3 linked regions of the Homo sapiens genome follow. The main gene of each other region encodes a partner of the protein of the gene in region 2 in a complex. Each region holds a gene or a part of one and is shown on either strand. Other genes may lie near its edges.

What was found.
Region 1: PKN1 (region 2) and AKAP13 share a complex: the UniProt entries of both Homo sapiens proteins name them as parts of the signaling complex.
Region 3: PKN1 (region 2) and MAP3K20 share a complex: the UniProt entries of both Homo sapiens proteins name them as parts of the signaling complex.

Annotation. Positions count from the first base shown.
Region 1 is NC_000015.10:85,740,546-85,744,296, reverse strand, and holds part of AKAP13 (A-kinase anchor protein 13), read right to left. Parts: intron 3,252-3,751; coding exon 2,802-3,251; intron 806-2,801; coding exon 472-805; intron 1-471. UniProt on the Homo sapiens protein: Scaffold protein that plays an important role in assembling signaling complexes downstream of several types of G protein-coupled receptors.
Region 2 is NC_000019.10:14,457,192-14,460,942, forward strand, and holds part of PKN1 (serine/threonine-protein kinase N1), read left to right. Parts: intron 1-839; coding exon 840-949; intron 950-1,040; coding exon 1,041-1,184; intron 1,185-3,751. UniProt on the Homo sapiens protein: PKC-related serine/threonine-protein kinase involved in various processes such as regulation of the intermediate filaments of the actin cytoskeleton, cell migration, tumor cell invasion and transcription regulation.
Region 3 is NC_000002.12:173,260,765-173,264,515, reverse strand, and holds part of MAP3K20 (mitogen-activated protein kinase kinase kinase 20), read right to left. Parts: intron 3,454-3,751; coding exon 3,379-3,453; intron 772-3,378; coding exon 621-771; intron 1-620. UniProt on the Homo sapiens protein: Stress-activated component of a protein kinase signal transduction cascade that promotes programmed cell death in response to various stress, such as ribosomal stress, osmotic shock and ionizing radiation.

The sequences.
Region 1 (3,751 bases), on a different chromosome or scaffold from region 2:
GGAGGCATTTAGTGGAATTCAGCCGCAGGCTCTGTGGCCGCTGGCACATTAGTTAGCCTCTGTGAGCCTCAGTTTCCTCACTTCTCTTGGGGTTAGCAGTGCCAACTTCATACAGTCATTTGAGGGTTAAATCACCAAATGCTAGCTGTTACCAATGACTACTCTAGGCCCAGAAAGGCAAGGAGGACTTGAATTACTTCATTGAGGGGTGAGCTCCAGTTCCTCGATCGGATAATGCCTTGAAAATGAAACCCATGCTCTCTGCTTCTGCACACGTGCCACACAGAGTGGGTTCTTAATGTTCGCTGCATGAGTGCTCTTAGCAAGCGGAGCTGGTGAAAAGGATGGCAGTTTGGCTTTTGAGCATCTGAACTGTCCCCTTTTCAACCCCGCCCCATGCCACTAAAATCTACCCTCTCTCAGAATGCACAGACACTATGGCCACAGGGAGAGCAGGTGTGCGTGACTCACCACCGGGCTGAGAGCGGCTGGTTTTGTTCTTCTTTTTTTTCTCCTTCTTTTCCTTTGGCTTTGTTAACCCAAACAGGCGGGTAGAGGCAGAGGTGGACGCAGGGGCCTGGCTCTGCCCTTCTGGTCCTTTGTTTGTCTGGCTGGTTGAACTCAGTATGTGAAAAGGCCCCTTATCTTTGTGTGTCCGAGAGATGCTGTTCCTTTTTGGGGACACTGAAAGTTCTGAGTCCAATGACCCTGATTTGGCTATGGAAGGTGCAGATGGCGAGGGGGGCTCCTCAGGACTGGGGAAGAACGATGGGATCCTCATCAGCTTGGTATGTGGATGGGAAACCTGTACATATTCAAGAGAAGGGTTTTCACTTGGAGGCTGTCAGCGTCCGTGATGCCAACTCAATAAATCCTGGCTGAATTCAACTGGGTGTGCTGGCTGGGTACTTACCCACCTCTGCGAACTCTACAGAGCTCACGTCTGTGGACTGCATAGAGCTTGAAGGTTTCATTAGCTGCCCTCCCCCAAGTAGTATCTATAAACATGTTAAAAATATCGCCTTTAATGCTGTTAATACTTTTACTACATACACAAACGCCGGCGTTGTAAAAAACCAATAGTACCTTTGATGGGGCGACTTAGAAAAGAATTCCCATTCCCTGAAGAAACAAGGAGAGCTGCTTAAGATTGCTCTACACAGGGATGCAGATAATTATTTTAAGGCAAAGAGATTATAGAAGCCTGTTCCGGTTAGAGGATAAGTGGAAAAGCCGAGCTTACACCAAGAATCCTAGTCACAGGTTAAACCAGAGATAAAGAGGATCATCTACTCTGGGTTCTCTTAGCTGCCTGGGAACCCTCCTTTGTCAAAGCACCGATTTTATTGGGATGGGGGTGGAATCCCTCCTTATGTCATAAAAAGCAACACATGGCATTTGCTGCTCCCCACCCCCAATATATTTGGCAACATCTGCAGAAAGCTACAACTGCCCCCTACCCTGGAAGCTGTCAGTATAATTTTCTTTCGTGGTCCAAGATCAATCAATCAAACAAACGGCAACATGGTATGCATTTCAAAACACAGGCAGATCTGTGTACACCCAGGCTCTCCATCTGCCACAAGCATCCATGTTTCGAAATAACCAAGGAATATCACTGAAATAAGCTCAGGAGTGAGTGTGCTGAATAACCAAAAGCCTTCCAATATAAGCAGCAGCTATAGAGAAAGAGAGGTTTTTCATCAGCAGTAGAGAGGCAAATCAGGAACTATGCAGAGTGCAGCTGTCTCAACATCCCCAAGCAAGAATATCATCCATCCACGAGAGGAGTGGCGGCCTCCCCTAGTTGCTGGGATGGGCGTTTCCCTCTGTAACTGCCTCCCACCGATCCTGCCACATGGGTTCTTCCAGCAACTCTGGCCTGAGAGCCATTTCCTGCTGTCTCAGGACCACAGGCACCACATGTTCTGGAGGCTCTTTTATTCTTGGTGTGCTTCCCCATTAAGCTACAAGTTCCTTCAGGTTGGGGCCATGCCTGATTTCTGATGTGGCACAGAGCAGTGGCGTTGCTCCTAAAATCCTGGATGGCTGACTGCCATTTTCTCAGACACACTGAGACTCCTCTAGCTGAGGGAAGTGCCAACTCCAAATATCCATTACTGCCCTGGCCAAAATGCCCCAGCACTTCCATTCTCTTTTTCAGCCTCTTAGAGATGCAAAAAGCAGAAGAAGACTTTCTGCCTCTGCCTCTCTTTCGGGGTAAAACAAAGATTCTTTTTGTTTTTCTGTGTGTGTTTTTTTGAGACGGAGTTGCTCAGGCTGGAGTGCAGTGGCGAGATCTCGGCTCGCTGCAATCCCCACCTCCCCGGTTCAAGCGATTCTCATGCCTCAGACTCCCAAGCAGCTGGGATTATAGGCGCCTGCCACCACACCCAGCTAATTTCTGTATTTTTAGTAGAGACGCCGTTTCGCCATGTTGACCAGGCTGGTCTCAAACTCCTGGCCTCAAGAGATCCACCTGCCTCGGCCTCCCAAGGTGCTGGGATTTATAGGTGTGAGCCATTGTGTCCAGCTACAAAGATTCTTAAAAACTGTTTTTTTTTTTTGTTTGTTTGTTTGTTTTTTTTTTTTTTTTTTTAGGAGAGACAGAGTCTCCCTCTGTTGCCCAGGCTGGTCAAGCTACCCTCTCACCTCAGCCTCCTAAAGTGCTGGGATCACAGGCATGAGCATCTGGCCAAAAACAGGCTCTATATTTCTGCTCACTTTCTTACCTTGCTTAATACACAGGGGGTCTTAATTAATATCATCATTAGGTTGCTCTCGGCAGGGAGTCCCATTACCTGACACAGGTCCCGTTCTGTCTGCCGCTGGCTGAGCCGCTCTGCCTCCCGGCGCAGCTGCTCCTGTTCCCTCTCAAGCTGTTTCTGGGCAGCACGCAGTCGCTCCAGGTCATACTGGTATGTGCCCTTCTTCTGCTGGAGCTCCTCCCGCTCCTTTTCCAGGTCCTGCTGCCCCTGCTGCACCTCCTCCTCGCGCTGGGCCAGGAGGGCCTCCCGCTCCCGCAGCTCCCTCTCACGAGCTTCCCACTCACGCTCGCGCCTGCGCTTCTCCTCGAGGTACTGGGCCTGCTGCTTCTGCAGGTTGGCCAGGTCCTGGCGCTGCTTCTCCAGGCTGCGCTGCTTCTCCTGCTCAATGAGGGAGCTCGGGCGGGACAAGCTGCGAGTGAGCGCCCTCTCGCTCAGCACCAGTTTCTGGTCCTCAATGTAGCTGTCCTGCTGCAGCACCACACCCTGGGAGGCACACAGAGGGGAGCCCTGCAACTCTGGCCAGGACGACAGCGAGCTTCTGGATCCCTCCCGACCCCACAGCAGGGGGCACCAGGCACTATGACGGACTAGAACTCTCCCCTCATTTTTCAAGCCCGTCTCATAAAAATGCTCCAGGATAATTGCAGCTGTTTATCATACAAGAACCTCAAAGGTGCAGGAACTCACGGGTTTTTGTCAATCTGGTTGCATGCTGTTTGCAGTCAGTGGTATTACCTGGGGTGGGGGGGGGGGTGGTTGTGTGTGTGTGTGTCTGTGTGGGTGGGTGGGTTGTGTGTGTGTGTGTTGGAAGTGGGAGAAAGTAGGAACGAGACAGGTTAGATCTTCAAGAAAGGAAGTGAGCAGAATTTGAGGATGTTCCTGGGAAGTCCGAAACAGAAGCTGTATTAGGAAGGCCACTCTATTCAAATACCACAGAGATACGGAATATAGAAACTTATAATCATACTTAAGGCTTTCTAAAG
Region 2 (3,751 bases):
CATGCCTGTAATCCCAGATACTTGGGAGGCTGAGGCAGGAGAATATCACTTGAGGCCAGGAGTTTGAGACCAGCCTGGGCAACATAACAAGACTCATCTCTACTGAAAAAAAAAAAAAAAAAGAAAAAGATAATAGACATGCCCCTTTCTGCCAGGATTTTCTTTCTTTTTCTTTTTTTTTTTTCTTTTTTTTTTTTTTTGAGATGGAGCTTCACTCTTGTTGCCCAGGCTGGAGTGCAGTGGCGTGATCTCGGCTCACTGCAACCTCTGCCTCCTGGGTTCAAGGGATTCTCCTGCCTCAGCCTCCCGAGTAACTGGGATTACAGGCATGTGCAACCACGCCTGGGTAATTTTTTATTTTTAGTAGACATGGGGTTTCACCATGTTGGTCAGGCTGGTCTCAAACTTCTGACCTCAGGTGATCCACCTGCCTCAGCCTCCGAAAGTGTTGAGATTACAGGCATGAGCCACTGTGCCTGGCCGTTTTTATTTTCTCTTCTCTTCTCTTCTCTCTTTTCGACCGAGTCTTGCTGTGTCACGCAGGCTGGAGCGCAGTAGCACGATCTTGGCTCACTACAACCTCTGCCTCCTGGGTTCAAGTGATTCTCCTTCCTCAGCCTCCCGAGTAGCTGGCATTACAGGCGCGTGCCACCACGCCCAGCTAATTTTTTGTATTTTTAGTAGAGACGGGGTTTCGCTATGATGGCCAGGCTGGTCTTGAACTCCTGGCCTCAAGTGATCGCCTGCCTCAACCTCCTAAAGTGCCGGGATTACAGGCATGAGCAACCTTGTCTGGCTACTGCCAGCATTTTCTGACTGGGCCCTCTCTCCCATTTCAGGTGAAGTCAGCACTGTGCTTAAGCTGGATAACACAGTGGTGGGGCAGACGTCTTGGAAGCCATGTGGCCCCAATGCCTGGGACCAGAGCTTCACTCTGGAGCTGGAAAGGGTGAGCTGCGTTGGAGGACAGCAGGGCCTAGAGGAGGAGGGGTTCCATGCCTCTGGCACCCTGAGTGATGGCCCTCTTCCTCTCCCTCCAGGCACGGGAACTGGAGTTGGCTGTGTTCTGGCGGGACCAGCGGGGCCTGTGTGCCCTCAAATTCCTGAAGTTGGAGGATTTCTTGGACAATGAGAGGCATGAGGTGCAGCTGGACATGGAACCCCAGGGCTGCCTGGTGGCTGAGGTATAGCCCACACCTGACCCTGAGAAAATGCTTCTTCTCCCTCACTGCCCCATTCCCAGTTTCCTAGAAGGGGAAAATATGTTTTAGGTCTGGCTCTTCCAGAAGGGGAAGATAAGTTTTAAGTCAGGCTTTTCTAGAAGAGGAAAATAGATTTTAGATCCAGCTCTTCTAGAAACGGAAGATATGTTTTAACTCTGCCTTTTCTAGAAGGAGAAGATACGTTTTAGGTCAGGCTCTTCCAGAAGGGGAAGAGACGTTTTAGGTCTGCTTTTTTCTAGAAGGGAAAGATATGTTTTAGATCAGGCTCTTCTAGAAAGGGAAGATAGGCTTTTGATCTGCCTGTTCTAGGCTGGGCGTGGTGGCTCATGCCTGTAATCCCAGCACTTCGGAAGGCTGAGGCAGGAGGATCACCTGAGGTCAGGGAGACCAGCCTGGGCAACATGGTAAAACCGCGTCTCAACTAAAAGTACAAAATTAGCTGGGCGTCGTGGCACATGCCTTTAGTCCCAGCTACTTGGGAGGCTGAGACAGGAGAATCGCTTGAACCCAGGAGGCGGAGGCTGCAGTGAGCTGAGATCCCACCACTGCACTCCAGCCTGGGCGACAGAGTGAGACTCTGTCGCCCAGGAGTCTCACAAAAAAAAAAAAGATCTGCTTGTTCTAGAAGGGGAAGATACATTTTAGATCAGGCTCTTTTAGAAGCATAAGATATGTTTTAGATATGGTTTCTCTTAATACAGAAAGATAGTTTTAGATCAGGCTCTTTCAGAAGTGGCAGGTATGTTTTAGACCCGTGTATTCTAGAAGGGGAAGATACATTTTAGATCTGTCTCTGAACCTTGATAGAAAAGTACACCTTGGCCAGGTGTGGTGGCTCACGCCTGTAATCCCAGCACTTTGGGAGGCTGAGGCAGGTGGATCACTTGAGGCCAGGAGTTCCAGACTAGCCTGGCCAACATGGTGAAACCCCATCTCTATTAAAAATACAAAAATTAGCTGGGCATGATAGTGGGTACCTGTAATCCCAGCTACTTGGGAGGCTGAGGCAGGAGAATTGCTTGAACCCAGGAGACAGAGGTTGCAGTGAGCTGAGATCACGCCATTGCACTCCAGCCTGGGCAACAGAGTGAGACTCTTGTCTCAAAAAAAAAAAAAAAAGAAGAAGAAGAAGAAGAAAAGCACTTCTAATTAGCCACATCAGTGATAGGACCTTAGCTGGGATTGGTTTTGTTCTGAGGCAAGATACTTAAAAAAAAAAAAAAAGAAGAAGAAGAAGCTGATTTCCAAATTTAGAAATGTTTAAAGAAAAAAGGAAATAAATTATAAAATTTCTTCCAACCAGGAAAGAGATACAAAACCTGGCAACATATCGTGGTGATTGCTACCAGAGCCACAGTCAAGAGAAAGTGATTCCTTCCACAGCTGTGTGAGGGTGAAGGTCTGAATTGAGGTGGCCTACCCTTGGCACTGTTGACATCTGGGGCCACATCATCCTCTGTGGTGGGGCTGTCCTGCATACTAGAGGATGTAGCACCTCTCCCCACTGCTTACAGGATGTCAGTAGCACCACCTCCCCCTGAGTTTTGACAGCCCAGAGGTCTCCAGACACTGTCAAGTGCTCCCTGGCCGGGAACCCCTGGTCTAAATGACATTTCTAGCTGAGTTCTCATAGTATAAGCCAGGCTCTGTAGCGAGTACTTTGGCGACGTGAACTCATTAATTCTCACAACCAACCAACAAAAGAGGGACTGTTATTACTCAAATTTGACAGAGGAGGAAACTGGGGCACAGAGAAGGGGCACTTGACCCCTCATTTAGCCAAATTATCCTAAAAAACTCTTTTAATCTTCCGCTAACCTATATGTGTACCCCATTTTACATATATATATGATAGATTACCTATATATGTATACACACACATATTATCTATTATTTACCCACCTACGTGTCCATCCATCCATTTTGTCTGTCTATGCATTCATCCATCCATCTTTTTTTTTTTTTTTTTTTTTTGAGATGGAGTCTCGCTGTCTCCCAGGCTGGAGTGCAGTGGTGCGATCTTGGCTCACTGCAACCTCTGCTTCCCGGGTTCATGCCATTCTCCTGCCTCAGCCTCCCGAGTAGCTGGGACTACAGGCACCCGCTACCACGCCCGGATAATTTTTTGTATTTTTAGTAGAGACGGGGTTTCACCCACCGTGTTAGCCAGGATGGTCTCCATCTCCTGACCTCGTGATCTGCCCGCCTTGGCCTCCCAAAGTGCTGGGATTACCGGCGTGAGCCACCGCGCCCGGCCCAGCCATCTTATCAATGCATCCTCTATCCATTGATAGATACACCTATATTATCTGTCTTATCTATGTATCCATCTATATTAGGTATCTATATCATCTATTTATCTAATCCATCTATCCATTTATCTATCTCTATCTATATATTATCTATCAACCAATCTATTTTTCCATGCATCCGTCTCTATTATCTGTCAGTCATCTTATCCATCAATCTTATGTATGCATCATCCATCCATCTATCCATCCCTGTATATTTCTCTGTATATATATCTA
Region 3 (3,751 bases), on a different chromosome or scaffold from region 2:
GTTTCTAGAAAAGTTTTCCTTACTCCTATATATAAGAACAGGTAGGGACCTAACCCGTTATTTCCTCTGGGCGTTGTGATATCTTTGTGTGATGACTGTAAACAGGAGAGGAGCCGAGGGCAAAGGCAGCCTATTGAGCATGGCAGGGCAGAAAGAAGGGAAGGTTCATTCCACTCTCTGAATATGGTTGAGCCAGCTTATCTTACTGCACCTGGAGCCTGCCCTACCTCTGGGCTTCTTGTTATGGAAGATAATAAATTTTATTACAGTTTAAATCAGTGGCTTAAGGACTTTAGAGTTGTTCTTAATCACTGGGAAGGCTCCTTAAAATGCAGACTGCAGCTCCTATCCCCAGAGTTCTGATTCAGTAAGTCTGGGTTTGGGCCTGAGCATCTGGATTTCTAGCAAGTTCACAGGTGATCCCGATGCTCCTGGTCCTGGGGCCACACTTGGGGAATTATTGGAGTAAGCCAGTTGCAACTGGGTTTTCTGCTACTCGAAGCTCAAAGATAGATCTTAACTGATTGAGGTGGTATCCTCTGAGTCTTTAGATCATCTGGAAATGTCATAATTAAGTTTCTGGAATCTAGCACACATCTAATACGGGAACACTAACTTACTTGAGTCGGACCTGCTTCCAGGGTTGCCATCTGAATTGGTGAATAATGTCTGAATGGCAAGTTGGACTGCTTTCACTTCATCCTGAGGTTTTGTTCTACTCCACTGAATCGAATGGACATGTTTAGTGCTTTTTGGAGTTCTAACATCACTCTGGTAAAACAAACAAACGAAAAAGACAAAAAAAAGACAAATAGAAACATATGACCAAATAGACACACATATATAAAATGGGAAAGAAAGTCATCCAGGTTATTATATCACTTCAGTTTCACCTCTTAGAACACTATCATAATGCACTAGGAAAATATTCTGAACAGTTGGCCCAAATATGCTAATTCAATGAAAAGAAAAATTTTAACCACTTTATTTCTTAGTGGGTTATAGCACTTATTCCTTAATGGATTATAACATAAATTTCTTAGTAAACTATAGTAGCTAAAAAATATGGTTGTCTTTTCCCAGAATTTATTATATTTGACAAATCTCAACTTACCTCTTTGTTTAATAAGAAATAAAAAATTACATCTTCTATTTATAGTACTTGATGACAGCTATTTTGTTGAATAAATGAAAATCTGACCACCATGTTTGCCTAAGACTGAATTTGGATCATCAAGGAAACTGAGTGAAGGTGGTGGGGTGAATTACCTGCACGGAGGGGAAAGGGTCTCAGATGCAAAAGTGAGACAGGATCAAGAAGTAAGAAATGGGGACCAGGAAAAGGAGAGGACACTAGGTCAAGACACATTACTTTCTTGTTCTGAAATCTCCCTCCTCACTAGCTGTCACCAATCAGTGTCAATTAAAGAGTCTCCAGGATTCAATATGGTTAGGGAAATCTGTTTTAAAAAACTCTGAAGTGAAAAACCCAGACAAAAGTGGCATATCATCATGGGGTCTGAAAAAGGAGGAGGAGGGAGAGAGAAGAAGAAAAAGAGAACTGGGTGTGCTGTCTCCAAAACTGTCTAAGGCAGGCAGAGGTAGAATCTGGTTGTTCTAATTGTCCGATTACTAACAAGAGGGCTTTTCCTGGGTAGTGAGGACCAGTTAACAGGCTGTAGAGTAGTCTAGTTTCCAAGTTCCTCAAGACCAACCAGCCTCTTTTGTTTGGGTTTTGCACCTTGCAAGCAATGCTTTGACAAGTAATATAACTTCTCAGATGCCTCATCCCTGACAACCTGTGCACCCCAGCAGGTGAGGATAAATAACTGCTGTAAAACTTTTTGGCTTCCAGCCTGGATAAGTGGACTGGCCAGAGTTTGTATTGCTTTGCTTTTCTTTTTTTTTTTCTTTTTTGAGACAGTTTTGCTCTTGTCTCCTGGGCTGGAGTGCAATGGCGCAATCTCAGCTCACCACAACTTCTGCATCCAGGGTTCAAGCGATTCTCCTGCCTCAGCCTCCTGAGTAGCTGGGATTACAGGCATGCACCACCATGCCCAGCTAATTTTTGTATTATTAGTAGAGATGACGTTTTACCATGTTGGCCAGGCTAGTCTCGAACTCCTGACCTCAGGTGATCCACCCGCCTTGGCCTCCCAAAGTGCTGGGGTTACAGGCTTGAGCCACCGTGCCTGGCCCAGGGTTTGTATTTCTAATATTGAAAAGCCAAATCCTGGCAGCCCAGGAAACCATCAAAATGCCACACTCACAGAGTCCTCTTTGAGGTGGACTTCATCTTACTGCAGCCACTGGGAGCTAACAGGGTAGCCAGGGAAGCGCAGAAAGTGTTTTTTATAGTCAGAAAACATGGAATTGACTTCAACAATTCTGTCAGTGAGGACCTCACACCTCAAGACTTCCTTTCATCTCTCTGAGCCTATTCTTCCTATCTGCAAAATGAGGATAATAATATCTTTCAGTATTTTTTTTTTTTTCTGGAGACAGGGGTCTCACTGTCTCACCCAGGCTGGAGTGCAGTGGTGTGATCTCGGCTCACTGCAGCCTCAACCTCCTGGGCTCAAGCAATCCCCCGACTTCAACCTCCCGAGTAGCTGGGACCATAGTCATGTGCCACCACACCTGGCTACTTTTTGTATTTTTTGTAGAGATAGGGTTTCATAATGCTGCCCAGGCTGGTCTCAAACTCTTGGGCTCAAGTGATCTGCCCACCTCAGCCTCCCAAAGTACTGAGATTACAGGTGTGAGCCACTGCGCCTGGACGATATTTTTCAGTATTGATTTACATGAAGTTAGTGTGATCAAACTGGTGTAAGCACCTCTAATAGTGCCTGGTTCATGGTAGATCCTTAATAAATGTTTCTTGAATGAATGAATTGATGAATGAATGAAATGCATGTCCCTTTGATGGTGGGTGCACACTAATATTTCCAGGTGTGCCAAGACTGTACTATAACTGTTGCCTTCCACCCACTCCCACCGGGTCTACGTACCTTGTAAGGTGTATGTCCTACCAGCCATGAAGATCTTGTTGATTTAAAAAAAATTAGTATTAACTATTAGTATCCCCAATACCAAACATCTTACATGGTATACAGAAGGTGTTCAATCCATAACTAATGAATGACTGAAGTACTACCTCAGTCGCTATCTGGGTAAGTTTATCCTGTTCTCTTTTCTTCCCAACACGTTGTGAGAGAAATTATATTGATCTTCCTATGTTCATGTTGGTTGGTTTACTCCCAATAAATTATATGCTCTGGGTATATCTCCCAATAAATTATATGCTCTGAGATAACAGATAAATTTATATTCATTAACTGATGGTGAGGCCACCAGCCTCTTGCCCCCAGAGCTTACCTCATATGTGACAGTGCACTCCACAGTCTGACTTTTTGCTATTCCTACAATCCACTTCTCCATTACAAATGGTGGCTGAAAAACAAAAGTTAGGATGGTGTAGTACCATAACACAGTCTGCTCTACTATAGTATGTTTCTTTGAGGCCGGTTGTGCCATACACAATTAGCAAATAGGGGCATAATATCAGATTATCATGAAAGCCTTGTTGGTTCTCATGTGATCACTCACAACATGCTAATGTTTGAAGTTTTGCTTTTCATAAGACATCCTTTTGTATATTTGTAAACAGCTAGTCATGGCCTCCCACAATCTTCTTTTCCGATATAACATTTGCTATCACTCAATCCTATCATTAGGTCATTAATTCTTG